Linked DNA regions of Homo sapiens. The protein of the gene in region 3 interacts with the protein of the main gene of each other region in a biochemical or structural test. Each region holds a gene or a part of one and is shown on either strand. Other genes may lie near its edges. The genes, in order: TDG, PIN1, RARA, SP1, KLF5, UBR5 and MAPK1.

Region 1 (4,111 bases), on a different chromosome or scaffold from region 3:
ACATCCTGAGAAAAGTTTACTCTCTTCACACACATTTTCAGTCACCAGAATTCTCTCCCAAAGCATTCAGCAGTCTTTGGTTAATGTGTCTTTCTGGATGCCCTGAAATAACTGAGGCAAGCCACCTGCTGTAAGACTTTTCTAGACGATGGTCCTGAGCCATTGGCAAAATCAGAGAGGATGGGCTTTTTTCATTCACTCAACATATATTCATTGAATATTTACCATGTGCCAGGTTCTGAGTAGTGTCTACTAATGGACAGGGTATTCATAAAAGTTCTGTACTGTTTTAAACGTTTCACTCAAACTTTAAACAGTTGATATATTACAAAAATCTTTCTGTATTTACTCACGAAAGCCTGGATCCTAGAATGAAGAAAATACATGGAGCACAGAGCCACAGCCATCTCCCAGCTCACAGATCACGTGAGTGAGAAATAAACTTCTGTGGCTGTAAACCACTGAAGGTTTGGAGTTACCTGTTACTATATGAATAAACTCAGGAAAGCCAACAAATACAGCAGCCATGTTTTTCATCATCCTGCAAACTAGAAAAACCCAAAAGCCTATTCCATTAAGAGTTCCTTAATAAAGTACAAACACCAGTGACAGAAATTGAGAACTAATGAAACAAAAGCCAGCTGCAAGAACCACTGAGACATAAAAGAGGGGTTAGTCTGTAAGATTACGAACCACTGAGATTTAAAAGAGGGGTTAGTCTGTAAGGTTATGGGAGGTGATGCTCGAATGGGATCTAGTCTCGTAGACGTCAAACGTTAATATTCTCATATATCCAAAGTAATGCGGAGAGTGGTTTATGTAGAGCTTTACATTTTACATAGCAGCTTTACATTCACCCTCATTTCACAGATAAGGAAACTGAGGCCCAAGATGGCACAGTGGCCTCGACGCCCAGGTTTTCCACTTTCAAAGACCCTCCCTCACATCTCATTACCTGATAATGCAACACAGTCTTTAATCGGGGCGAATTTCGGGGTGGAAAGGACTAGATAATGCTGATAAGCGTCATCATCCCATATACACAGCACCCCAAGGACAGCACCCTATCGCCCACGCGTCCACCAGCCCCCGAAAATACTGGAGACAAAAGCTGACGTCGGCAGAGCGCTCCTAGTCCCCGTCTTCTGGTCCTCCACCCTTCCCGAAAGGCCAAGCGGCGGAGCTGGGGCGCCAACGAGAAGGGGGTGAGCGTGATTGGGCTGTCCTACATCACGTGACGGCCAGTACGCGTGGGATTTGGCTCCGAGGAGGCGGAAGTGCAGCACAGAAAGGGGGTCCGTGGGGGACGGTAGAAGCCTGGAGGAGGAGCTTGAGTCCAGCCACTGTCTGGGTACTGCCAGCCATCGGGCCCAGGTCTCTGGGGTTGTCTTACCGCAGTGAGTACCACGCGGTACTACAGAGACCGGCTGCCCGTGTGCCCGGCAGGTGGAGCCGCCCGCATCAGCGGCCTCGGGGAATGGAAGCGGAGAACGCGGGCAGGTAATACCGGGGCCAGCGCCGCCCCTCCCTTGCGCCCCTCACTGCTGGGCAGGCTGGCTGGCGCGCGCGCGCGCACGCAGGGGTCTTTTAAATCCCGGCCGGAATACAAAGGCCGGGGCCGCGCGTGCGCACTGTGGCCTGGTCGGCCTTTCCTTCCCTGGCTGCGGCGGTGGTGGTGGAGGTCGGGGCTGCTCTGAGGGTTACCTGGTGCACCTGGACCCTTCTTTGGTTCCCCGCGATAACCAGTTGACTATAAAATATATTAGTAAGCATTCAGCAGTCTTTGGTTAATGTGTCTTTCTGGATGCCATTCTTGGCTAGAAGGGTTTTCCGTCACCCTCCATTACCACGCAGAGAGCTGTAAAGATGAGTGTCGAACATTTCCAGCTCCAGGAGTTTTCATTTTAAAGTTGGTTGATTTGTTGCGGCTTCCCCCCACCCCAAAGGCCTACTGAAAGCAACTTTAAGGGTCACGGGTTAGATAATTTTGTTGTGGGCATATGTATACACTCTCGAGTAGTCAATCTAAAAATGACCTTTGAGTTTTCCAGTGGCCTTGGGGACGATCTTAAGAATCCGTTTTTAAAAAGTCCTTTGGGGGAGTCAAGAGAAAAATTTGCAAAAGCAGGAGATTTAGGGACTTGAACTCCTGGCGGAAGACTAAATTTTTAAAAAATGGATATGGTGACAGTTTTTTAAAAGATAAAGAGTGATGATTTACATTGAAATTAAAAGGAAAAAAACCTATGCCTAATGAAGAATTATCCTGACTCTCAGTGGCTAATGGGAGCTGAATTTAGGCAATACAAGGGACTTATATGGGCCTGTTCATGTCTGTAAAGTTGGCATGTCTGGAATCTGATTCTGACATGCCGAGAATTGGTGTTACATGAAAGGGCACACTAACCAAAATAAATTAGAGCTTAGGAAAAGAGATATATGTAGACAAAGTGTGGACTTTATCTTGACTTTGTGGATCAAGTCCTGGAATAAATTACTCCACTTCTTTCCCAGAAGAACTTTACAAATAAGAGAATTCACCAGAATTTGTGGAAATCTCTCTCTCATAACCTCACTTAAGAGCAGAATTGAAACTTGGGCCAAGAATAAATTACACATTGTAAGACTTTATTCAGGGTCTTACAGCAAAATAGTAGGACTTCAATACACTGTTTAGCTCAAAGCTGTGATATGTCGGCCTGACTTCATCCAAAAGGCTATAGACCAGATTTTATTTTGCCTTGAAAAGCTTTCACCTTCAGGAACTGTGGAAAATTCTGTGTAATCTTCTGAAATGACTCAGACCCCAGGTAATCCTTAAGAGAGTAGTTCTCTGTCACCCTTGACTGTGCTAATCAAGAAATGTAATGTGGGATGTGAAAAAAAATAAATTTACTTTTTTTTTTTTTTTTTTTGAGACAGAGCCTTGCTCTGTTGCCCAGGCTGGAGTGCAGTGGCGGATCTTGGCTCACTGCAACCTCCATCACCCGGGTTCAAGCGATTCTCCCGCTGCAGCCTCCCAAGTAGCTGGGATTACAGGCACCTGCCACCAGGCCTGGCTAATTTTTGTATTTTTAGTAGAGACAGGGTTTCACCATGTTGGCCAGGCTGGTCTTGAACTCTTGCCCTCAAGTGATCCACCTGCCTCGGCCTCCCAAAGTGCTAGGATTACAAATGTGAGCCACCGGGCCCAGCCGACTTTTTTAGAAGACTAATTTCAGATATTCAAAGAAGAAAATTCAAATTCCATGAATACAGACTTTTTTTTTTGTTTTTTTTTTTTTTTGAGACAGAGTTTCACTCTGTTGCCCAAGATGGAGTACAGTGGTGCGATCACCGTTCACTGCAACCTCTGCTTCCCGAGTTTAAGCGATTCTCATGCCTCAGCCTCCCAAGCATCTGGGACTACAGGTACCCAACACCACGCCCAGCTAATTTTTTGTATATTTAGCAGAGACGAGGTTTCACCATTTTGGCCAGGCGGGTCTTGAACTCCTGGCTTCAAGTGATCACTTTGGCCTCCCAAAGTGCTGGGATTACAAGCATGAGCCAAAGCGCCCAGCCTAGACTTTATTTCAATGGCAAAATAGTTCAGGAGTCTTAGAAAGTGCTTACAGTCAATCAACCAGAGAGGAATAAAGGAGGAATTTTCTAAGGGTACTGGGGAGTTTCCCGTGACCTCAGGCGTGAAAAAGACATTTACCGAAGATGGAAAATAGGATGCCAAATCAAAAGTAACTGGAAGAGAGTAGCATGGACCACTAAGAATACCAACAGGAAAGATTAACCCTTGCATGAGAGTAGACTTTATAGAAATGTTAAGGAGACCAGGAAGGACTGTTTTGGTTAGATGTTGACAACAAGAAGAATAAAAAAGATTTGGGTTTTCTCCCCAGTCTACTGGCATGGTGGCAGCAGACAACAGAACACCTAAGTACTTTGTTCTGATTTGGATTTTACATCTCCTATGTTAGCAAAATGATTGTCTGACTGGAAATGGCAGAATGAATATCTGTAAGACTTAAAGCTCAAGACCAGTGAAGGCATTTAGGAGAAGTTTCAGGTGTTCTAACAGAATCATATGCCTTGGCCTGCGTGTGTTGTGTTTCAA
Region 2 (3,500 bases), on a different chromosome or scaffold from region 3:
GCACTCCAGCGTGGGCAACAAGAGCGAAACTCCATTTCAAACAAACAAACAAACAAACAAACAAACAAACAAAAACGCTTTCTTCCTGAGTTCCTGCTCTGTGAGGCTGACCTTGAGGGGTTTGGTCCTGTGTGTCTTGTTAGCTCAGCCTGTACCTGACCCCGCGACAATGACATCCTCCGACTCCCACCTCGCAGACCTTGGTTTAAGCCTCTTGTCCTGCCTGAAACTCATCAGCTATCCTCTGGTCTCCCCAAGAAGCCTCCCCTAATCCCCCACTGTGTTAGGTGCCTCCCCCTGGGTGCTGCATTTACTACCGTCCCATTGGTGTGTTGCTTGCCCGCCTCACAGTGCAGGAATGGAGGCTGCTGGGTTGGCCTTCTTCATTGCTGCACCCTCAGAACCCAGCACTGTGCACAAAACAGGTGTTCACGAATGTTCAAGAAGTTAATGAATAAATGAGACAGAAATAGGCCATGGGGAAGGAGGGAGACAGGGATCTACCACGGGGCTCGAAGCAGAAATGCTGGAATCTCATGCCCTATCTGCCTGAAACTCAGGCTGCGACCCTAAGGCCAGACTTCCTGGGCCTCCTCCAAGACAATGTGTCAGCCTTGCCCGACGGCGCCAAAACCTGTGAAATTTGATGGGGACTGTCGGGTGCTGGAGCCCCATCCTGATTCGATGTGGCTCCAGCTTAGAACCACACAGACACAGGGTGGCCTCTCCAGGAGCTCCCAGTCTGGAGCAGGGGCCTCCACCTGCTTCAAGGTGTTCAGGACCCCCTGAAATAGTATGCAAAACAGAATGGCACCTATCTGTGCTGGCAGACCCCAGCCAGCCTGCTCACAGTGTATCCCCAAGGTCCAGGAGGACATGTTATGGGTGCTGACTCCAGACTCCATCAGGTCCAGATCCTACCTCTGCTGCTCCTGAACAATGAGAGTCTGGCAGGTGACTTTACCTCTTGGAGCCTCACTCAACTGGCCTGTAAAATGGGGTAACCGCTGCTCCCACGTTGGAGCCTGTTCCAAGGAGTGAATCAGTGACCGCTTAAGCAGTGGCTGTTGCAGAGCAGGCCCCTGACAGATCCAAGCTGCCCATCCGTTATGGACTCAATGTTTGTGTCACCCCAAATTCATGTGTTAAAGCCCTAACCTCCAGTGTGGCTGCATCTGGAGATGGGGACTTTGGGGAAGTAACTAGGGTTAAATGAGGTCATAAGGGTGGGGCCCTGATCCAACAGGATTAGCGCCCCTTTTTTTTTTGAGGCAGAATCTGGCTCTGTCACCCAGGCTGGAGTGCAGTGGTACAATCTCGGCTCACTGTGACCTCTGCCTCCCAGGTTCCAGCGATCCTCCTGCCTCAGCCTCCTGAGTAGCTGGGATCACAGGTGTGCGCCACTACATCTGGCTTTTTTTTTAGTATTTTTAGTAGAGATGGAGTTTTACCATGTTGGCCAGGCTGGTCTTGAATTCCTGACCTCAGGTGATCCACCCACCTCAGTCTCCCAAAGTGCTGGGATTACAGGCATGAGCCACTGCGCCTGGCCAGGATTAGTGTCCTTATAAGAGACACCAGAGAGCTCGTGCTCCTTCACTCCGTGCACATGCGCCTGGGGAATGCCATGTGAGTGCACAGTGAGAGGGCAGCCGTCTACAAGCCAGGAAGTGGGTTCTCGCCAGGAACAGAATCTGAGGGAACCTGGATTGTGGACTTCTGGCCTCCAGAACTGTGGAAAGTGATGACTGTTGTTTAAGCCACACTGTCTGTGATATTTTGTTACAACAGTCCAAGCTAATGCACATCAGTGACCTAGGTGGGAGTGAGGGAACAAATGGGGTAGTCCTTGACCCCAAAAATGTTTCAAGACGTGCTGTCTCCTCTGCCTTGCCAGATCATTACGCTGCTTCCAGCATACTTCCCCCAGGCTGCCCAGGCACCAGAGGGGAAGGGGCCTGGTCGGGGAAAGAGGTGACAGGGTCAGATCTGAGAAGACCAAGATCCAGAAGGAGGGGCTAGAGGCTGGCCCAAGGCCAGCAGGCTGGAAGGGCGCCAGTGACCTTGAGGACCCCAGGACAAAGGGGCTGACCTGGATGCTGGGATGGGTATGTGAGTAGGACAGCTGCTCATAGTCTCAGCCTTGCTGGGACCCTCCAGGCCCTGGGCATGTGAGGGGTGGCTGTCAACAGATCTGGGTGGAGAGCGGGCAGGGAGGGCTTCTCCATGGCCCATCCTCCTTAGACAAGGACACTGGCAATGACTCCCTTGGATCTCTGACAGCCTCTGGCTGTGGCCCAGCAGCTGCAGAGGAGCCAATGCTGGGAAAAGGAGCCTCAGCAGAAAATGTGGAGGTCCCGGCTCTCTCTGCAGGCAGCCTGTCCCTTCGGGGCAAGGGCGGAGCACCAGATCTAAATGGGCACTGATGAGATTTAGCCCGGCTGCCAGCTGGGGAGTGAGCTGCCCAAATCATGGTCTCCTGATCACCCGGCATGAACCCTCGAGGGGAGAACATCCACTTCATGGAAGAGAAAATGAGGCCCAGGTGCCCAATGCCTGCGCCGACACTGCACATGATGATCTGTTACCGAGTGTACCTCGGCCGGGGCCACCTCACTGCATCCTCCTATCGACCTCTGAGGAGATCTGCCCCAGCACCGTCTCAGGCAGGAGGATACCAGGAGAGGGAGGTCGTGTGCCAAGGTCATCATCTGTGTGCTGAGCCCACCAGGCCTCCTGTGGTCCTATCCGGAACTCTTTCTACGGGCTGTGGGGTGGCAGCAGGGGCTGCCCGTGAGCAGAGGCCTTGACTTGACCTCAGCTCCCCCATCGTCCACACCCCAATGACTGGGGCTGAGGCTCCACCGTGCAGAGCACGCCAGCCACTGAGCCCATAGCTCCTGGATCCTCATAGCCACCCTCTCCCCATTCTACAGATGAGGCAACTGAGGCTCAGGAAATGAAGACCACACAGCTGGCACTGAAATCCAGCCCTGTACGAGCCCAGGGTGGGCCACGCTGTTCTGCCCTGACCCTCCCCCAGACATCCCACCCTTGCCCACCTAATCCATCACCCAGTCCTCTCTATCCTGCCTCCTGAATCTCTCTCGGGTCTGCTCCCTCTCACTTCTTCTTCCACTTCCAGCCCCCAAGTTCAAGTCACACCGCCTCTTGCTCCAATTCCTCCCACAGCTTCCACCAGGTGGGCAGGCAAGGCTCCTGCTGACATTCCAGAATCTGCAGGTACCTACGGTGACGCCTCAGGGCCTGGCTACTTACCAGGTGCACCTGTCCAACCCAGAGATGGGCGAGACACCCTCGCCCACCACACCCAGACCCATGCCCTCCTCACTATCCCCACCGACCTCAGCCTTCTGCCAGCTCTCATCAGGATTGCTTGGAGCAGCTCTGTCCTGCGCCTGGCTGCTCTGCTGACCCCCAGGAGCCCACTTCATGCCGCTCCATCCCCAAATGCCTGCACCCTCCTGCTCACTCTTATA
Region 3 (3,500 bases):
AGCCCTTTGTGGGGAGGGCAGTGGGGAGGGGGCACGGGTGAGATGGTTCTGACTGTTGCACGAAGAGCCCCAGACAGGAATGGAGGGGACTGGAGTGTCCTGCCACAGGAGGCTGGGGGTGCCTTGTCCTGAGCCCAGGAAGTGGCTCCTGCTGCAAGAGTGGGTGACAACTCAAGACCCACAAGCCTGGAACCCTTCGCTTAAGGGCTGTCACCTCCTCCTCTCTGTTTGTGCCACCTTCTGCTCTTTTCATGGCAGAAGGACCAGGGAGGGGACCCCTTCTCCCTCCCACCGCCAACTCCCCTTCTCCCTCCCACCGCCAACTCCCCCTCTCCCGGCTGCTCTGTGCCCCGGAGCTGAGCAGCTGCCATTTCAATAGAATTAAAGCTTCCGAATGATAAACGTCTTGTCACAGCTGCAATTTTCTCTTCCCAAATTATCCCCCCACTCTCCCTCTCCCTCTCCCTTCTCTCCCCTGCACTTTATTGAATTTGCAGAATCGACATGAGTGATCTCCAAATTATGCCAGCTACCCCCACCTCGCTACCCCCTCCCTGAGCCCCTCCCCCACCCTCCCTTCCTCCCGCGTCAGCAGCCACCACCACCAGCCCTGTGAGTGATTGTGTGTCTGGATAATCGGCTGGTAACGACCCCATCGCTTCTTTAAAGCCGAGTGGTGTGTGCGGCTCAGCGCCCCTGGTGATTTGTCAGCTCCCCAGCTAATGGGCCAAGAGATTCTCCCCGCCAGGTCCCCCACTCTCAGGCTGGGGAGCCCTACTCCCCACTTGCCCCAGGAGCTGCTCAGAGCCAGTCCCAAGGGACCCCCAGGGAGACTGCAGCTGGGAGGGCTGGGTGAGTGGAGGCGGGAGAAGGACCTTCCTGGGGAAAGAGGAGGCAGAGCACCTAGGAGGGCACCGTCGCCTGGAGTGTGAGCTGGAGTAGACGCGTGGGGGATAGCATGCGGCTGGCTATGGGGTGGGGTGGGGGGTGTGTGCAGGGCCACAGCTGTGCTCATGGGGCTTCTGGGGCAGAACTTGATGTGTGGGTTGGGTGGGCATGGAGGGCTGGAGTGCGTGGCAATGCCTTGCCTGCCCGTGAACGCGTGCTGTGTGCGCGTGCTTACAAGCCTGGGTGACCTCCTCAGCAGCTGGCAGCTCTCTGTCAGGCTGGGGGTGGACGAGGCCCTGAGCAGCCTGCAGCTGCCCTCTTAACCCCCTCTGCCCTCCACAGCTGTGAGAAACGACCGAAACAAGAAGAAGAAGGAGGTGCCCAAGCCCGAGTGCTCTGAGAGCTACACGCTGACGCCGGAGGTGGGGGAGCTCATTGAGAAGGTGCGCAAAGCGCACCAGGAAACCTTCCCTGCCCTCTGCCAGCTGGGCAAATACACTACGGTATGGCTTTCCCCCGGCCTGCAGGGTGGGATTTGCCCAGGGCCACAGGGCCAGGATGGGCCCCTCTCAGGCACCCCTTCTTGTGCCAGGCAAGATCTCTGCGTCCTTCCCTTCCCCTCTCTTCTCCCTCCTCCTGCTGCCTCTTCCCAAGGAGCTCCCAGGAAGTGAAGGCTGGGTAGAGGGCAGGCCTGTGGGGGCTGGAGCCAGGCTGAGAAGGGGTGCCATGGAGAAGAAGGCCCTCACTCTCCCTCCTCCCCCAGAACAACAGCTCAGAACAACGTGTCTCTCTGGACATTGACCTCTGGGACAAGTTCAGTGAACTCTCCACCAAGTGCATCATTAAGACTGTGGAGTTCGCCAAGCAGCTGCCCGGCTTCACCACCCTCACCATCGCCGACCAGATCACCCTCCTCAAGGCTGCCTGCCTGGACATCCTGGTGAGGGTCTGCACCCTGGCCCCCAGGCACTGCCCCTGTGTCCTGGGTAGATGTCCTTCCAGCCAGACAGCCACCCTCCTAAATGTCTGTCTGCAATCAACCTGTCCAAATGCCCACCGCCCAAATGTCTGCCCTTCCTCTCCCCATATGTCCACCTGTCCACTCGTCTCCCTGTCCACTCAGCCACCTAGCAGCCAGATGTGCAGGAGCTCACCTGTTCACCCATACACATATCCAGCCACCCAGCCATCCATCCATTTAGCCAGTAATAAAGATTCACGTAGGAGCCAGGTGCAGTGGCTCATACCTGTAATCCCAGCACTTTGGGAGGCCGAGCGAGGCAGGAGGATCACTTGAGGCTGGAAGTTCAAGACCACCCTGGGCAACATAGTGAGACCTTATTTCTGCAAAAAACTAAAAAGATTCACCTAGGATCCTCTGGCCAGTGTTCGAGCTGGGTGTCAGGAACCCAGCGGTGAATGCACCACCATCCCCTCTCTTGAAAACCTTCCATGTGAGGCAAGAGATAAGTCAACAGAGGTTGCAAAACTGTGATCAATGCTTCCTGGAGATTGGGGGAGGGCTTGTGACTGCTTGGGCCTGAAGGATGATGTCTCAGAGGAGGTGACATCTAGGGGTTTGTAGAGGGGGAGGTGAGAGGGTAGCCCTAACTCAGGAGCAGGAAGTGAAAGACTTGCTGCTGTGAGGCCATGCTGAGCTCAGGGGACTGCCGGGCACTCGGTGAGGTGAGCCCGAGGGTAGACTGGGCTGGAGGCTGGATGCAGGGGGTGGGGGCAGGAAGAGGTGGTGGGAACTGCCAAAGCCTAGGCTGGAGGGAGCACTCTCCTTCCTGCTGTCCCTGACAAGGGCTCGGTCCACCTGTTCCCTCTTGGTCACCTCCAGGGTGGGGAACCTGGGATTTGACGAGACTGTCATTTCTTTTTATGTTTTTCTTTTTTGAGATGGAGTTTCACTCTTGTCACCCAGGCTGGAGTGCAGTAGTATGATCTTGGCTCACTGCAGCCTGCAACTGCTGCCTCCCGGGTTCAAGCGATTCTCCTGCCTCAGCCTCCTGAGTAGCTGGGATTACAGGCACCCGCCACCACACCCGGCTAATTTTTGTATTTTTGTAGAGACGGGGTTTCACCATGTTGGCCAGGCCGGTCTCGAACTCCTGACCTCAGGTGATCCTCCCGCGTGAGCCGGCAGACTGTCATTTCTCCATGGGCACCTCTGAATGTTGAGGCGGGTGATGGGTGGGAGGTTTAGATTGTGCTGCCTGCAGGGGCTCCCATCCCCATGCCGTGGATGCAGGAGGTGCCGTCTGGGTTCCTGCAACCACATTCAAGCCAATACACATTTACTGAGCGCTTGTTGTGTACCTCATCCTGGGAGCTGTAGGCAGCAGCCCAGTGTTCCTTAGCTCCTAGAAATTCTAGGTCCCCTCTACATTCTTTGCATGTAGGCAGGATGACCTGGACCTGCACTATCCAGTACAGTAGCTGCTCACCACATGTGACTCTTTAAATTTAAATTAATTAAAATTAAACTCAATTCAGTTCCTCAGTTGCATTAGCCACATTTCAAGTACTCAGTAGACGCATGTGGCTGGTGGCTGAGGTATGGATGGTGCAGACGTAGAACCTTTCCATCATTGTAGAAAATTCTATCA
Region 4 (3,500 bases), on a different chromosome or scaffold from region 3:
GCCCAGGCTGGAGTGCAGTGGCACAATCTTGGCTCACTGCAGGCTCCGCCCCCTGGGTTCACGCCATTCTCCTGCCTCAGCCTCCCTAGTAGCTGGGACTACAGGTGCCCGCCACCTCGCCCAGCTAATTTTTTGTATTTTTAGTAGAGACGGGGTTTCACCGTGTTAGCCAGGGTGGTCTCGATCTCCTGACCTTGTGATCCGCCTGCCTTGGCCTCCCAAAGTGCTGGGATTACAGGCATGAGCCATGGGGGCGCCCGGCCTTTTTTTTTTTTTAAGACAGATCTTCATCCGGGTACGGTGGCTCACGCCTGTAATCCCAGCACTTTGGGAGGCCAAGGCGGGCGGATCACCTGAGGTCAGGAGTACAAGACCAGCCTGGCCAACATGGTGAAACCCCATCTCTACTAAAAGTACAAAAATTAACCGGCGTGGTGTCAGGTGCCTGTAATCCCAGCTACTTGGGAGGTTGAGGTAGGAGAATTGCTCGAACTTGGGAGGTGGAGGTTGCAGTGAACCGAGATCGTGCCGTTACACTCTAGCCTGGGCGACAGAGTGAGACTCTGTCTCAAAAAAAAAAAAAAGAGCTTCGCTCTTGTTGCCCAGGCTGGAGTGCAACGGCACGATCTCGGCTCACTGCAACCTCCACCTCCCAGGTTCAAGCAATTCCTCTGCTTCAGCCTCCCAAGTAGCTGGGATTACAGGCATGTGCCACCACGCCTGGCTAATTTTGTATTTTTAGTAGAGATGGGGACCATGTTGATAAGACTGGTCTTGAACAATTTTTGTATTTTTTAGTACAGATGAGGTTTCGCCATGTTGGCCAGGCTGGTCTCGGATCCCTGACCTCAGGTGATCAATCCACCTGCCTCGGCCTCCAAAAGTGTTGGGATTACAGGCGTGAGCCATCACTCCCAGCCCCTAGAAACCTTTTTAAAAAAGAAGGCTTGGCCGGGTGCGGTGGCTCACGCCTGTAATCCCAGCACTTTGGGAGGCCGAGGTGGGTGGATCACAAGGTCAGGAGATCGAGACCATCCTGGCTAACATGGTGAAACCCCGTCTCTACTAAAAATACAAAAAATTAGCCGGGTGTGGTGGCGGGCACCCATAGTCCCAGCTACTCGGGAGGCTGAGGCAGGAGAATGGCGTGAACCCGGGAGGTGGAGGTTGCAGTGAGCCAAGATTGCGCTATTACACTCCAGCCTGGGCGACAGAGCGAGACTCCGTCTCAAAACAAACAAACGAACAAAAAAAAGAAGCCTTGGTCCAGTGCAGTGGCTCACGCCTGTAATCCCAGTACTTTGGGAGGCGGAGGTGGGCAGATCCATCACCTGAGCTCAGGGGTTCGAGACCAGCCTCGCCAACATTGCGAAACCTCATCTGCACTAAAAATATAAAAATTAGCTGGGCATGGTGGTGTGCACCTGTAATCCCAGCTACTCGGGAGGCTGAGGCAGGAGAATCGCTTGAACCTAGGAGGCGGAGGTTGCAGTGAGCCGTGATCATGCTACTGTACTCCAGCCTGGACGACAGAGTGAGACTCTCTCAAAAAAACAAAAAAGAAGACTTTTTCAAAAAATAAAAGTTTGGGTTAGTTTGGTGTCGATTGGGTGATTGCTGTTGATACTTTGTGGTTCTTTAGTTTTCTCTAGAATGAATGATTAACAGTTGTGTCCTCACTTTCAGGGGCTCGGGGGATCCTGGCAAAAAGAAACAGCATATTTGCCACATCCAAGGCTGTGGGAAAGTGTATGGCAAGACCTCTCACCTGCGGGCACACTTGCGCTGGCATACAGGCGAGAGGCCATTTATGTGTACCTGGTCATACTGTGGGAAACGCTTCACACGTTCGGATGAGCTACAGAGGCACAAACGTACACACACAGGTGAGCAAGAGCCTATGGGAGAGAAAAATAGTAATAGACTAGAATGAAAAACACAAAATATACCTACAAAATAACTAAAATTTCTGAGCAACTTAATTTGAAACTGAATATATGGGTCACAAATGGAATTGGAGTTAATCTGGAAAATTTTTAAGAAGGAAGGAGGGGCTGGGTGCAGTGGCTCACGCCTGTAATCCCAGCACTTTTGGAGGCCGAGGCGGGCAGATCACGAGGTCAGGAGATCGAGACCATTCTGGCTAACATGGTGAAACCCCGTCTCTACTAAATATACAAAAAAATTAGCCGGGCATGGTGGCAGGCGCCTGTAGTTGCAGCTACTCAGGAGGTGGAGGCAGGAGAGTGGCATGAACCTGGGAGGCGGAGCTTGCAATGAGCCAAGATCGTGCCACTGCACTCCAGCCTGGGCGACAGAGCGAGACACTGTCTCAAAAAAAAAGGAAGGAGCCAGGTGTCGTGGCTCATGCCTGTAATCCCAGCCCTTTGGGAGGCCGAGGTGGGTGGATTTCTTGAGGTCAGGAGTTCAAGACCAGCCTGGCCAACATGGGGAAACCCTGTCTCTACTAAAATTACAAAATAGTCAAGCGTGCTGGTGCACACCTGTAATCCCAGCTACTCAGGAGGCTGAGGCAGGAGAATTGCTTGAACCTTGGAGGCGGAGGTTACAGTGAGCTGAGATTGTGCCACTGCACTCCAGCCTAGGCGACAGAGCAAGACTCTGTCTCAAAAAAATAAAATAAAATAAAATAAGGAGCTAGATTTTGAGTGGGATTTTTGAAGGTGAAGCATTGAAACCATTACTCTTAGTCTCTGCCCTGCCTTACTTTTAAAACTGCTAAGTTCTACCTTCCTTACCGAGTACTCCCCAACCTTTATCTAGTTTTCTTCCTCACGCCCCCGCCAAAAGGAAAATATACTTGAAGTTTTTTGTTTTTTGTTTTTTTTTTGAGACAGAGTCTCTGTCGCCCAGGCTGGAGTGCAGTGGCGCGATCTCGGCTCACTGCAAGCTCCGCCTCCCGGGTCCACGCCATTCTCCTGCCTCAGCCTCTCCGAGTAGCTGGGACTACAGGCGCCCGCCACCACGCCCGGCTAATTTTTTGTATTTTTAGTAGAGACAGGGTTTCACCGTGGTCTTGATCTCCTGACCTCGTGATCTGCCCGCCTTGGCCTCCCAAAGTGCTGGGATTACAAGCGTGAGCCACCACGCCCAGCCACTTGAAGATTTTTCTTGTTTTTGATCACCTTCTCATACTGGCCTTACTCAGCTTAGTAGAGTAAGCACTGAATTGGGTAAGGTAACCTCACTTCCTAACATGTCAGCTTCTTATCTTTTCTTCCTTTACCTAGGTGAGAAGAAATTTGCCTGCCCTGAGTGTCCTAAGCGCTTCATGAGGAGTGACCACCTGTCAAAACATATCAAGACCCACCAGAATAAGAAGGGAGGCCCAGGTGTAGCTCTGAGTGTGGGCACTTTGCCCCTGGACAGTGGGGCAGGTTCAGAAGGCAGTGGCACTGCCACTCCTTCAGCCCTTATTACCACCAATATGGTAGCCATGGAGGCCATCTGTCCAGAGGGCATTGCCCGTCTTGCCAACA
Region 5 (3,500 bases), on a different chromosome or scaffold from region 3:
CCTGCATCAGGCTCCCAAGTAGCTGGGACTATAGGCATGTGCCACCATGCCCAGCTAATTTTTGTATTTTTAGTAGAGACAGGGTTTCACTATGTTGGCCAGGCTGGTCTCGAACCCCTGAACTCAGGTGATCCACCTGCCTCCGCCTCCCAAAGAGCTGGGATTACAGGCGTGAGCCGCCACCGCGCCCAGCCAAATATTATCGAGATTTTAAAACCAAAAGCTATGTTTAATATATTCCATGAAAAATGACTTTGGAGCAAAGACCTAGAAAGGAATTTTTTTTTTTTTTTTTTTTTTTGAGATGGAGTCTCACTCTGTTGCCCAGGCTGGAGTGCAGTGGCACGATCTCAGCTCACTGCAACCTCCGCCTCGTGGGTTCAAACGAGTCTCTTGCCTCAGCCTCCTGAGTAACTGGGACTACAGGCATGTGCCACCACGCCTGACTAATTTTTGTATTTTTAGTGGAGATGGGGTTTTGCCTTGTTGGCCAGGCTGGTCTCGAACCCCTAAACTCAGGTGATCCACCTGCTTCGGCCTCCCAAGTGCCAGAATTACAGGTGTGGGCCACTGTGCCAGGCCCTAGAAAAGAAATTCATATCTAAGGATCTTTTAGTACCCAAACTGAAAGTCAATATATTCAGCAGCAAATCTCAAGTACAGATTATACGAAGTATAACTAATAACATCTTACTACACATGTCAGTAGGCAATAAAGTCTTCTGCAAAAGACAGTAAGGCAGAAAATGGGAATGTAACCCCTTTACAAACTAGGCTTCCACTAAAAATCTTTCCAGGACTTAATGTGGAAATCTTTCCTAAACAGGGAATCTTGAACACAGTGCTTTAAGAGTCCATTTTGTGAGTCTGGCGTGGTGGCTCACGCCTGTAATCCCAGCACTTTGGGAGGCTGGGGCGGGTGGATCATCTGAGGTCAGGAGTTCGAGACCAGCCTGGCCAACATGGTGAAACCCCGTCTCCACTAAAAATACAAAAATTAGCCGGGCGTGGTGGCAGGCGCCTGTAATCCCAGCTACTTGAGAGGCTGAGGCAGGAGAATCGCTTGAACCTGGGAGGTGGAGGTTGCAGTGAGCCGAGATCGCACCATTGCACTCCAGCCTGGGGACGAAAGCGAGACTTCATCTCAAAAAAAAAAAAAAAAGAAGAGTGAATTTTGTGTTCCTATGTTATTTGTACAATGTTTCCATTTTCTCCTACGGGCGTGTTTCAAATTGTCCTTTTCCATTGTCAATCTCCAGTAAGCCACTCTGGGATCACTTAGTACACACAGAGTCCAATGCATGGAGTCTGGGTCTGAGGAATACTTGAGCCAAGTGTGTGTTGTTCAAAGACTTTCTTTGTACAAATGCTAATTTCTTGCCCTGTTCCAGATAGCTGAAACGGGGGAAAAAAAAGAAAGAAAAAATCTAGAAACGTTACCGTACCCTGATTTCCCAACAGCTTTTCCATATTCTCTAAGGTTAAGTGTATATCCACGCACATGAAGGGAACCGCTAGGACTTCAAACATCTGTGTTGAGTTCATGGTTTACTTTTTCAGAACTTTTTCTCTGGTAAGAACTTTTTAAATTTCTACAAATTTTTGTTTGAAGATACAGTCAATATATTTTCCTACTGATTTCAACTTGCCTCAAACCTTTGCAAACTTAGACATTATTTTAAATGTTCATTATATTAAAGAAAAAAGTAAGGTATGTGAGCATATAATACTGGTTGCAATAGACAGTTTATCAGTCATGTTGATTTATAAAGACAAAACAGTATACTTGGGAGCAACTTTAGAGTAATAGCAATGTGTTCCGCCCCTTGTAGACATCATGAGGCATACAAATTTCAGTACAATGTTCATTTAAATGCTGTTAAAAGTACAAATATTTTGAATTGGAAATACACCACTCATTGACATTGTTACCTAGAAGCAGCCATAATTATTTCTCACCAAAGGCATGATAAATGTATACACACACATACTACAAATAATACATGCGAACATCCACATCTATAAGGGGTGCTTCTACAGGCCTTATGCTATACTATGTATGTACAGATATAAATAAAATATAATTATTCCCTAGAATAGAAGCAAATGTTTCCAGTATTGTCTAATCACACAAAGAAGACAGAACTTTGTATTATTTATATGCGATTTCCTGATAAAGAAATCAAAGTATATGAACTTAGAAGACTTGAATGCTATACTTCTGGTTTAAGAAACTGATATATCATCTACTCTGTCATCTCAGATTACTTAAAAAGTTCTATTTTGTTAAGACTATTATTTGCTTAGGTTCAATTTGCAACCCAAGTTAAAGAAGCACTTCCAATCTAAAAATCCAGAAGAAGTAATTAAACTCAGATGTAGGCTGTTTTCATTGCCTAAATTATTTTTAAAACATAAGGTAACTTGACATTTTAAAGCAATTACAATTATTTTCCAAAGAAATGCTAGGGTGCTTCACATTCTGCCTGTAAAACGACAATCATTTAAAGAGTATTTTATGTCATCAACTGTTGTGTGGTTTTTAAAGTCCTCTGATCAACGGTCCGAGAGGGAGGAGGAGGACAGAAAGAAAACCAAAAAAAGCTATTACATAAGAGAAGTAATTTAGAAAAACTGTCCTAACTGTTCTACCTGGGCCTTAAAGGGAAAGAAAAAAAAAAAACACCTTTGCTGGCTTCAGATACATTCATTTAAAAACAACAGGCGGGCAGGGTGGGGAGGATGCAATGAGAGAACAGGTAATTTTAAAAGGCATTGTCTAGAAATGAGAAATGAGGAGAAAACAACCTCAATGCTCTATGATTACCCAAGAACAGGTTTAGCCAGATGAACAAGTCTGCTACAAACCCTCCCCAAGGCATTTGAAAGACTATCAAACAAAACTTTATTAAACTGGATTACATGTTCTCATTCATTAGATGTTGAAGGCCACAATGTTTATGGTCAGGTGAAAAAGCTGATGCAAGGGACCCAAACCAGGTCTCGGTCTTCTTTTCAGTCTGTTTTTATTAGTACAAGCATTGTTAAGACAACCCACGATTAAATGTATTTGCCGGCAGGTCAAGTTCCTGAATCGCAGGTATAAGCATTCAGGGCACTAAACCCTGACGGGGTGAAAGGCTATTCAGATATGGGTTTGACTACATCCCTGCAATAAGTAGTTGATTACATCGTTATATGCAATTGTGCTCTTTTATTAGGAGACTTTAAACCCAGGAAAATGTGTTCCCTCCTATCTCTCAAGGACTTCCAAAAGTGAAAAAAACAATAGTTCAAATGTCTTTATATTTCCATTTATATTCTGTAAAAGGACATTTTGGTATTTCTACATGGAATATTTTCCTGGCACTTGTCATTTGTATTTTGAAAACTTTAAGTTGGAGTTTTTATAACATGCTTAATTCATTTGTGTTTAACTATAAAAATTTCTACCTTGGGCTGCCTATGAAGGATCCTTCCTCTTATGTAATCAGTTTGTC
Region 6 (3,500 bases), on a different chromosome or scaffold from region 3:
AGATTAACAGCAGGGTGTAGAATAGCCAAGCAAAATAGAAAATCAAAACAAAGGCAGAGCAATTTTATAAATCAGGATATCTGTGACTGAATCATAGGCCTAGGAATAAACAGACACTTGTGAAGAAAATTACAGGATACACAGGAATACGACTAGGAATAATAGGTGAAATTAGGAAAGGTCAGGGTTTTTTCCCCTAACAATTAGACCATTAGGTTATTTAGGAAATAGTTTCCAAAGGAAAATTTAATTGCTGAAGACTGAGTTACATGGACGTAGATCTTATAAGGTATATTAAAGGAAGCAATTTTATGTTACAGGAGGATGTACTTAATGTCTCCCCTCCCTCATTTTATCATACATATTTATTTTGTTTTTTGAGTCTCGCTCTTGCCCACGCTGGAATGCAGTGGTGCCATTTTGGCACAATCTTGGCTCACTGCAACCTCCGCCTCCCGGGTTCAAGCGATTCTGCTGCCTCAGCCTCCTGAGTAGCTGGGAGTACAGGCGCACGCCACCATACCTGGCTAATTTTTGTATTTTTAGTAGAGATGGGGTTTCACCGTGTTGATCACGCTGGTCTTGAACTCCTGACCTCGTGATCTGCCCACCTAGGCCTCCCAAAGTGTTGGGATTACAGGCGGGAGCCACTGCGCTCGCCCATATTATACATATTTCTAATTAAGAAAACAGACTCTAGTTAGCATCCATGTTTCTGTCATTTTGACTCCTTGGCATTCTGGTCATGTGAAAATAGCCTCTTCTCTTGGCTCACTGTGGTTATGAATTGTTGGTTTATTTTTAGAACTGGTTTTTAAGTTTTCCCCTGAGTATTATTTTTAAGCCTTTTATTTTGGAAAATTTTAAGCATATACAAGAGTAGAGAGAATAGTATGATGAACAACCATGTTCCCATCACACAGTCTTAACAGTTGTCAACTCATGGCCAATCTGATTTCAACTCTCTCCCCATTTATTCTCCTCTATCAGGTAATTTAATTGCTGTATCTTCACTATATATTTCAAAATATGAAGCCTTTAAAAAAAAACCTGAAAAAACCTTAATAACAAAATTGCCCAGATTTTCCTGTTGTCTCATAAATGCTTATTTCTGATTGACAATTTTGATAATTTTACTTAATAAAGCTGATTGGGTTCTAACATGTTAAAAAATTTGACATTTGTAGAATAACCTTAGAATTTGGATTGTAACCTTAGAAGAAGGGGCCACTGGGGAATTATTTAGTTCCTTAAAGCTCAGTGCTGTAACTTTTTTTTTTTTTTTTTTTTTTTGAGATGGAGTTTCGCTCTTGTTGCCCAGGCTCGAGTGCAGTGGCGTGATCTCTGCTCACTGCAACTTCCGCCTCCCGGGTTCAAGTGATTCTCCTGCCTCAGCTTCCCAAGTGGCTGAGATTATAGGTGTGAGCCACCACGCCTGGCTAATTTTGTATTTTTAGTGGAGACGGGGTTTGACCATGTTGGTCAGGCTGGTCTCGAACTCCCGACCTCAGGTGTTCACCTGCCTTAGCCTCCCAGGGTGTTGGGATTACAGGCGTGAGCCACTGTGCCAGGCCTCAGTGCTATAACTTCTTAACCTCCGGTATGACAGCATTTTTTGTCAGCAGTCACTTGTAATTGTTAGATAAGGATGATAAGACAGGATTCTTGAAATTCAGTGATTTTTCCATGGGGTCACTTTGAGAAATAAGATTGTCATGTGAAAAGTTTGCAGCATTTTCATGAACTAATAGACAGGTGAGGTATTAGTCAATTGAACTTGGCTATAAGAAATTATTCTCTGAGATCATATTTCTTATTACTTTCTTGAGACAATCAGTGTAGTGGTAACAAAACCCCTTCCAAATTAGAAATACGATAAATTCTTAGATAACCATGCTTTGTAACATTGTCATTTTGTCAGGATATTAAAGAAGGTATTAATATTTAATGTTATTTTACTTGTAAATACACAATTTATGTTACTTGCACAGCTAAAGTACTGTTATTTGTTCAATTTCTGACAGTATCACTTAATAAAATGTCTTTGACTCTTTCATCTTTATTGAGTTATACTTTACATTCAGTAAAATTAACCCATTTTAGGTGTACAGTTTGATGAATTTCGGCAAATGTGTACAGTTGTGTAATCACCACCACAATCCAGGTACAGGACATTTTCATCACCCCAAAAAGTTACCTGGTTTCCCTTTGTATTTTCAGTCACTTCCCCCTAGGCTAGGTCCTGGCTACCTAGCAACCATTGTTCTGCTTTCTCTCACTGTAATGCTTTTCCTTTTTGAATTTCATAGAAATGGAATCATGTGTCTGTTTTCTTTTGCTTAGAACAGTGCTTTTGCAACAGATCTGTGTTGCAGCATGTAGTAGTTTCTTCTTTTATATTAAAAGTAGTATTTTCATTGCTTGACCTGGGAAGGTGGAGGTTGCAGTGAATCAAGATTGTGTCATTGAATTCCAGCCTGGGCAACAGAGTGAGACTCTGTCTCAAAACAAACAAAAAAAGTAGTACTTATTTCATGACTGTACCACAGTTTTTAAATCTGCTTTCTAGCTGATATAAATTTGGGTAGTTTACTCTTTCTAGCTATTCTCTAGTCTTTATTTTTTTCTTGTTTATTTATTATTTTAATTTTTTTTGAGACAGGCTCTTGCGCTATTGCCCAGGCTGGAGTGTAGTGATGTGAACATGGCTCACTGCAGCCTTGACCTTCTGGGCTCAAGCGATCCTCCTGCCTCAGCCTCCTGAGTATCTGGGACTACAGGCTTGCATTACCACATCTGGCTAATTTTTAATTTTTTGTAGAGATGGAGTCTCTCTGTGTTGCCCAGGCTGGTCTCGAACTCCTGGGCTCAAGCAATTATCCCGTCTCAGCCTCTCCAAGGTGCTGGGATTACAGGCATGAACCACTGTGCCTCGCCTTATTTATTTCTTTAAAATTAGAGACATGGTCTTGCTGTGTTGCCTAGGCTGGTCTCAGACTCCTGGCCTCAAGCTGTCTTCCCACCTTGGCCTCCCAAAATGCTGGGATTACAGGCAGGAGACACCATGGCTGGCCTGAAGTTTTTCTTGGCTTCAATTTATCACAATGTTTTTCATAGGAAAAGTCCACTGATAATAAAAACCTAGATTTTTCTTGACAGCAAATTTTTGTGTTAATTAAAAAACATACTAGTATATGTAAAAAGATTATATTTTAGAATTCCATTAAATGTAATGGTTGTATTCTAGATTGCTAGTTATAAAGATGATGATAGTGGCTAGTCGACAAAGCACTGTGATGAATGGATCAGTAGATAAGTTTTTATTTTCTTCCCCATGAGTTCAGGCTCCATTTCTGTGATATAGAAGTGTCGAGAACCTGCCGTTTCAAGAAATTGGCTCTGCTCCAGCATGAATCTGCTGTTCAGAATTCAGGCGATGAGGTATTCCAGGTCTTTACTTGAATTCAGATACCAGGTCTACCTCACAGACAACCTGGAAC
Region 7 (3,500 bases), on a different chromosome or scaffold from region 3:
GAGTGCAATGGCACGATCTCAGCTCATGCAACCTCCACCTCCTGGGTTCAAGCGATTCTCCTGCCTCAGCCTCCTGAGTAGCTGGGATCACAGGTGCCTGCCACTATGTCCAGCTAAATTTTTTGTATTTTTAGCAGAGACAGGGTTTTGCCATGTTGGCCAGGCTGATCTCGAACTCCTGACCCCATGTGATTCACCCACCTTGGCCTCCCAGAGTGCTGGGATTACAGGTGTGAGCCACTGTGGCTGGCCTGCGAACCTGGTCTTAAAACAAGCAAGCAAACAAGCAAACAAACAAAACTCATGACAGTACAACATGTGAACCTGTGCCCAGGTCGGGGGGTGGTTTGGGTGGGGTATAGTTCAAAGGTTATTGGGATAATATCTAAAATGTGAATATAAACTGTGCATTAGATACTGAATCAGTATTAAGTTTCTTGATTTTGAAAACTGTACTGTGGTCATGTTAGAGAATACTCTTAAGGCAGGGTTTTTCAACCTCGGTATGACTAACATTTTGGGCTGAGAAAGTTTCTGTTTGGAGGGCTGTTCTGTATATCGTAGGATTTTTAGCAGCATCTCTGGCCTCTTGATGCAGGGAGTACCCCTACCCCTCACTGTGACAACCCTGCCACATGTCCCCAGGGAACAACAGGACCATGGTTTGAAGTAAAGACATACTGAAACAAGGTGAAGGGGTGTATCTACAATTTACTCTCAAATGACTCAGAGTGCGTGGGAGTGCCCACACACATGCACACAAAGAATGATAAAGCAAATGGGGCAAAAGATAAAAAATCGGTGAGCCTGAATCTGGGGTAAAGGGTATTTAGGAGTTCTATCTGGCGGTTCTACAAGAGTGTTCCAGAGACTCCTATGGGTTCCCTCTAGAGGATCTGAGAGGTCACAGTACATTTATTATACTACTATGACATTTTCATCCTTTTCAGTCACGAGTGAAAAGAAGATTTTTCCAGATGCAATATGATGAGTGATGATGTGTACATGAAAATGTGACACTTGGAATATCTGTGTAACTCAGTGAACCAGTATTTTCCAAATACGCTAAAAAATCATGCATGAGTATGAGTGCAAGGTAGACTAATGGATTTTAACGAAATAGTATCAAGAATTCACTGATATGATTTCAGATTCCACACTGCAATTAACCTTTAAGAAACCACCACTTGTTTAAACTGGGGGTAGGATCAAAGAATAGCCACAAGTGGCTGAAAAGACTACTAAAATTTCCCTCCTTTTTCCAGCTACATACCTGTGTGAAGAGTTTTCCTCTGGCCATACCACCCTGAACACGCCCGATCTTGTCTGATCTCGGAAGCTAAGCAGGGTTGGCCTGGTTAGTGCTTGGATGGGAGGAATAGATCTTGAATTTCATAAATAGCACTCAGACATCTATTTTTAGGCTTATTTGTAAATGTCTTGATAAAATGTCTGATTACTGTTACATACTAGGGAAAAATCTCACTTTTTTGTGTGTTATGCTTTTAAGCATAGATTTTGTTTGCTAAAATGTTATTTAGAATTTTGCATGTATTTTTCACTGGCTTGCGATTTTTCTTTTTATATAACATCTTTTTTAAAGGGTCTTTATTAATATTGCACTCAAGTTTTCTTCTGTTTTCTATGCTCTGAATTCAAGCAGTTAAAATCCATGGGAAAGAGTTTTCCTTGACATTTTTGAAGAACTATGCATGTAATATTATATTGATTATTAAATTGATTAAAGCCTGAAAAAAAAAAAAAAAAGAGTTTTCCTCATGAACTTAAACCAAAACAACATATTTGACAGACTGAATGCAGAACCAGATGAGAATCCAACTGTCTTCTATTAAGCCAGACATTAAAGAGACTTGCAAAAATGAAAACAATGCCACTCTTCTCACTAAAAGGTTGTTTTTCGTTTTGCTTTTTTTAAAGACAGGGTCTCACCCTGTTGCCCAGGCTGGAGTGCAGTGGCGTGATCACGGTACACCGCAGCCTCAATTTCCTGGGCTCAAGAAAATCTCCCATCTCAGCCTCTTGAGTGGCTGGAACTATAGGTGCACACCACCATGCCCAGCTGATTTTAAAATTTTTTGTACAGATGGCAGGGCACAGCAGCTCACACCTGTAATCCCAGCACTTTGGAAGGCCGAGGCAGGTGGACCACAAGGTCAGGAGGTTGAGCCCATCCTGGCTAACATGGTTAAAACCCTGTCTCTACTAAAAATACAAAAAAATTAGCCAGGCGTGGTGGCGGACGCCTGTAGTCCCAGCTACTCGGGAGGCTGAGGCAGGAGAATGGCGTGAACCTGGGAGGCGGACCTTGCAGTGAGCTGAGATCACACCACTGCACTCCAGCCTGGGTGACAGAGCACGACTCCGTCTCAAAAAATAAATAAATAAATAAATAAATTTCTTTTTTGTACAGAGTCTCACTATGTCACCAGGGCTGGTTCCAAACTCCTGGTGATCCTCCTGCATTGGCCTTCCAAAGTGTTGGGATTATAGGTGAGAGCCATCATGCCTGGCCTCACTAAAACGTTTTTATTGTAGAAAATAAACTTATTCTTAAGAAAAACATGTAATTTATCTTAACATGTAGTGGGTTTACTATTTAAAAATTAATTAATACATTTTAAAGTTTCATATTGTAGGCCGGGTGTGGTGGCTCATGCCTGTAACCCCAGCACTTTGGGAAGCCGAGGCGGGTGGATCACCTGAAGTCAGAAGTTCAAGAGCAGCCTGGCCAACATGGTGAAACCCCATCTGTACTAAAAAATACAAAAATTAGCCGGGCATGGTGGTACACACTTGTAGTCTCAGCTACACGGGAGGCGAGGCCGGAGAATCATTTGAACCCGGGAGGCAGAGGTCGCAGTGAGCCAAGATTGAGCCATTGCACTCAAGCCTGGGGGACAAGCGCCAGACTTCTCTCCAAAAATTAAAAAAAAAAAAGTTTCATATTGTAAATAACAATAGATATAACCTACGTAACTAAAAAAAGGTGTGTGGGTCCTTGACTTTTTTTTTTTTTTTGAGACAGAGTCTCACTCTGTCACCCAGGCTGGAGTACTGTGGCAAGATCTCGGCTCACTGCAACCTCCACCTCCCAGGTTCAAGCGATTCTCCTGCCTCAGCCTCCAAGTAGCTGGGATTACAGGTGTGTGCCACCATGCCCAGTGCATTTTTTGTATTTTTAGTAGAGACAGGGTTTCTCCATGTTGGCCAGGCTGGTCTCGAACTCCTGGGCTCAACTGATCCACCCGCCTCGGCCTCCCAAAGTGCTAGGATTATAAGTGTGAGCCACCATGCCCAGCTGGTCCTTGATAATTTTTAACAAATGTAAAGGGATCTTGGCTGGGCGCAGTGGGTCATGCCTGCAATCCTAGCAATTTGGGAGGCTGAGGTGGGTGGATCAGTTGAGCCCAGGAGTTTGAGACCAGCCTGGCCAACATGGCAAAACCCTGTCCCTACAAAAACATACAAAAATTAGCCGG

What was found.
Region 1: the proteins of RARA (region 3) and TDG form a complex in vitro, tested with the Homo sapiens proteins (one study listed by BioGRID).
Region 2: the proteins of RARA (region 3) and PIN1 form a complex in vitro, tested with the Homo sapiens proteins (one study listed by BioGRID).
Region 4: the proteins of RARA (region 3) and SP1 form a complex in vitro, tested with the Homo sapiens proteins (2 studies listed by BioGRID).
Region 5: the proteins of RARA (region 3) and KLF5 form a complex in vitro, tested with the Homo sapiens proteins (one study listed by BioGRID).
Region 6: the proteins of RARA (region 3) and UBR5 form a complex in vitro, tested with the Homo sapiens proteins (one study listed by BioGRID).
Region 7: of the proteins of RARA (region 3) and MAPK1, one has a biochemical effect on the other in vitro, tested with the Homo sapiens proteins (one study listed by BioGRID).

The regions. Positions count from the first base shown.
Region 1 is NC_000012.12:103,964,561-103,968,671, forward strand, and holds the start of TDG (G/T mismatch-specific thymine DNA glycosylase), read left to right. Parts: upstream 1-1,311; 5' UTR 1,312-1,477; coding exon 1,478-1,500; intron 1,501-4,111. UniProt on the Homo sapiens protein: DNA glycosylase that plays a key role in active DNA demethylation: specifically recognizes and binds 5-formylcytosine (5fC) and 5-carboxylcytosine (5caC) in the context of CpG sites and mediates their excision through base-excision repair (BER) to install an unmethylated cytosine.
Region 2 is NC_000019.10:9,841,818-9,845,317, reverse strand, and holds part of PIN1 (peptidyl-prolyl cis-trans isomerase NIMA-interacting 1), read right to left. Parts: intron 1-3,500. UniProt on the Homo sapiens protein: Peptidyl-prolyl cis/trans isomerase (PPIase) that binds to and isomerizes specific phosphorylated Ser/Thr-Pro (pSer/Thr-Pro) motifs.
Region 3 is NC_000017.11:40,350,680-40,354,179, forward strand, and holds part of RARA (retinoic acid receptor alpha), read left to right. Parts: intron 1-1,230; coding exon 1,231-1,391; intron 1,392-1,651; coding exon 1,652-1,828; intron 1,829-3,500. UniProt on the Homo sapiens protein: Receptor for retinoic acid. Retinoic acid receptors bind as heterodimers to their target response elements in response to their ligands, all-trans or 9-cis retinoic acid, and regulate gene expression in various biological processes.
Region 4 is NC_000012.12:53,407,676-53,411,175, forward strand, and holds part of SP1 (transcription factor Sp1), read left to right. Parts: intron 1-1,686; coding exon 1,687-1,886; intron 1,887-3,251; coding exon 3,252-3,500. UniProt on the Homo sapiens protein: Transcription factor that can activate or repress transcription in response to physiological and pathological stimuli.
Region 5 is NC_000013.11:73,065,505-73,069,004, reverse strand, and holds part of KLF5 (Krueppel-like factor 5), read right to left. Parts: intron 1-3,500. UniProt on the Homo sapiens protein: Transcription factor that binds to GC box promoter elements. Activates the transcription of these genes.
Region 6 is NC_000008.11:102,402,701-102,406,200, reverse strand, and holds part of UBR5 (E3 ubiquitin-protein ligase UBR5), read left to right. Parts: intron 1-3,500. UniProt on the Homo sapiens protein: E3 ubiquitin-protein ligase involved in different protein quality control pathways in the cytoplasm and nucleus. Mainly acts as a ubiquitin chain elongator that extends pre-ubiquitinated substrates.
Region 7 is NC_000022.11:21,791,146-21,794,645, forward strand, and holds part of MAPK1 (mitogen-activated protein kinase 1), read right to left. Parts: intron 1-3,500. UniProt on the Homo sapiens protein: Serine/threonine kinase which acts as an essential component of the MAP kinase signal transduction pathway. MAPK1/ERK2 and MAPK3/ERK1 are the 2 MAPKs which play an important role in the MAPK/ERK cascade.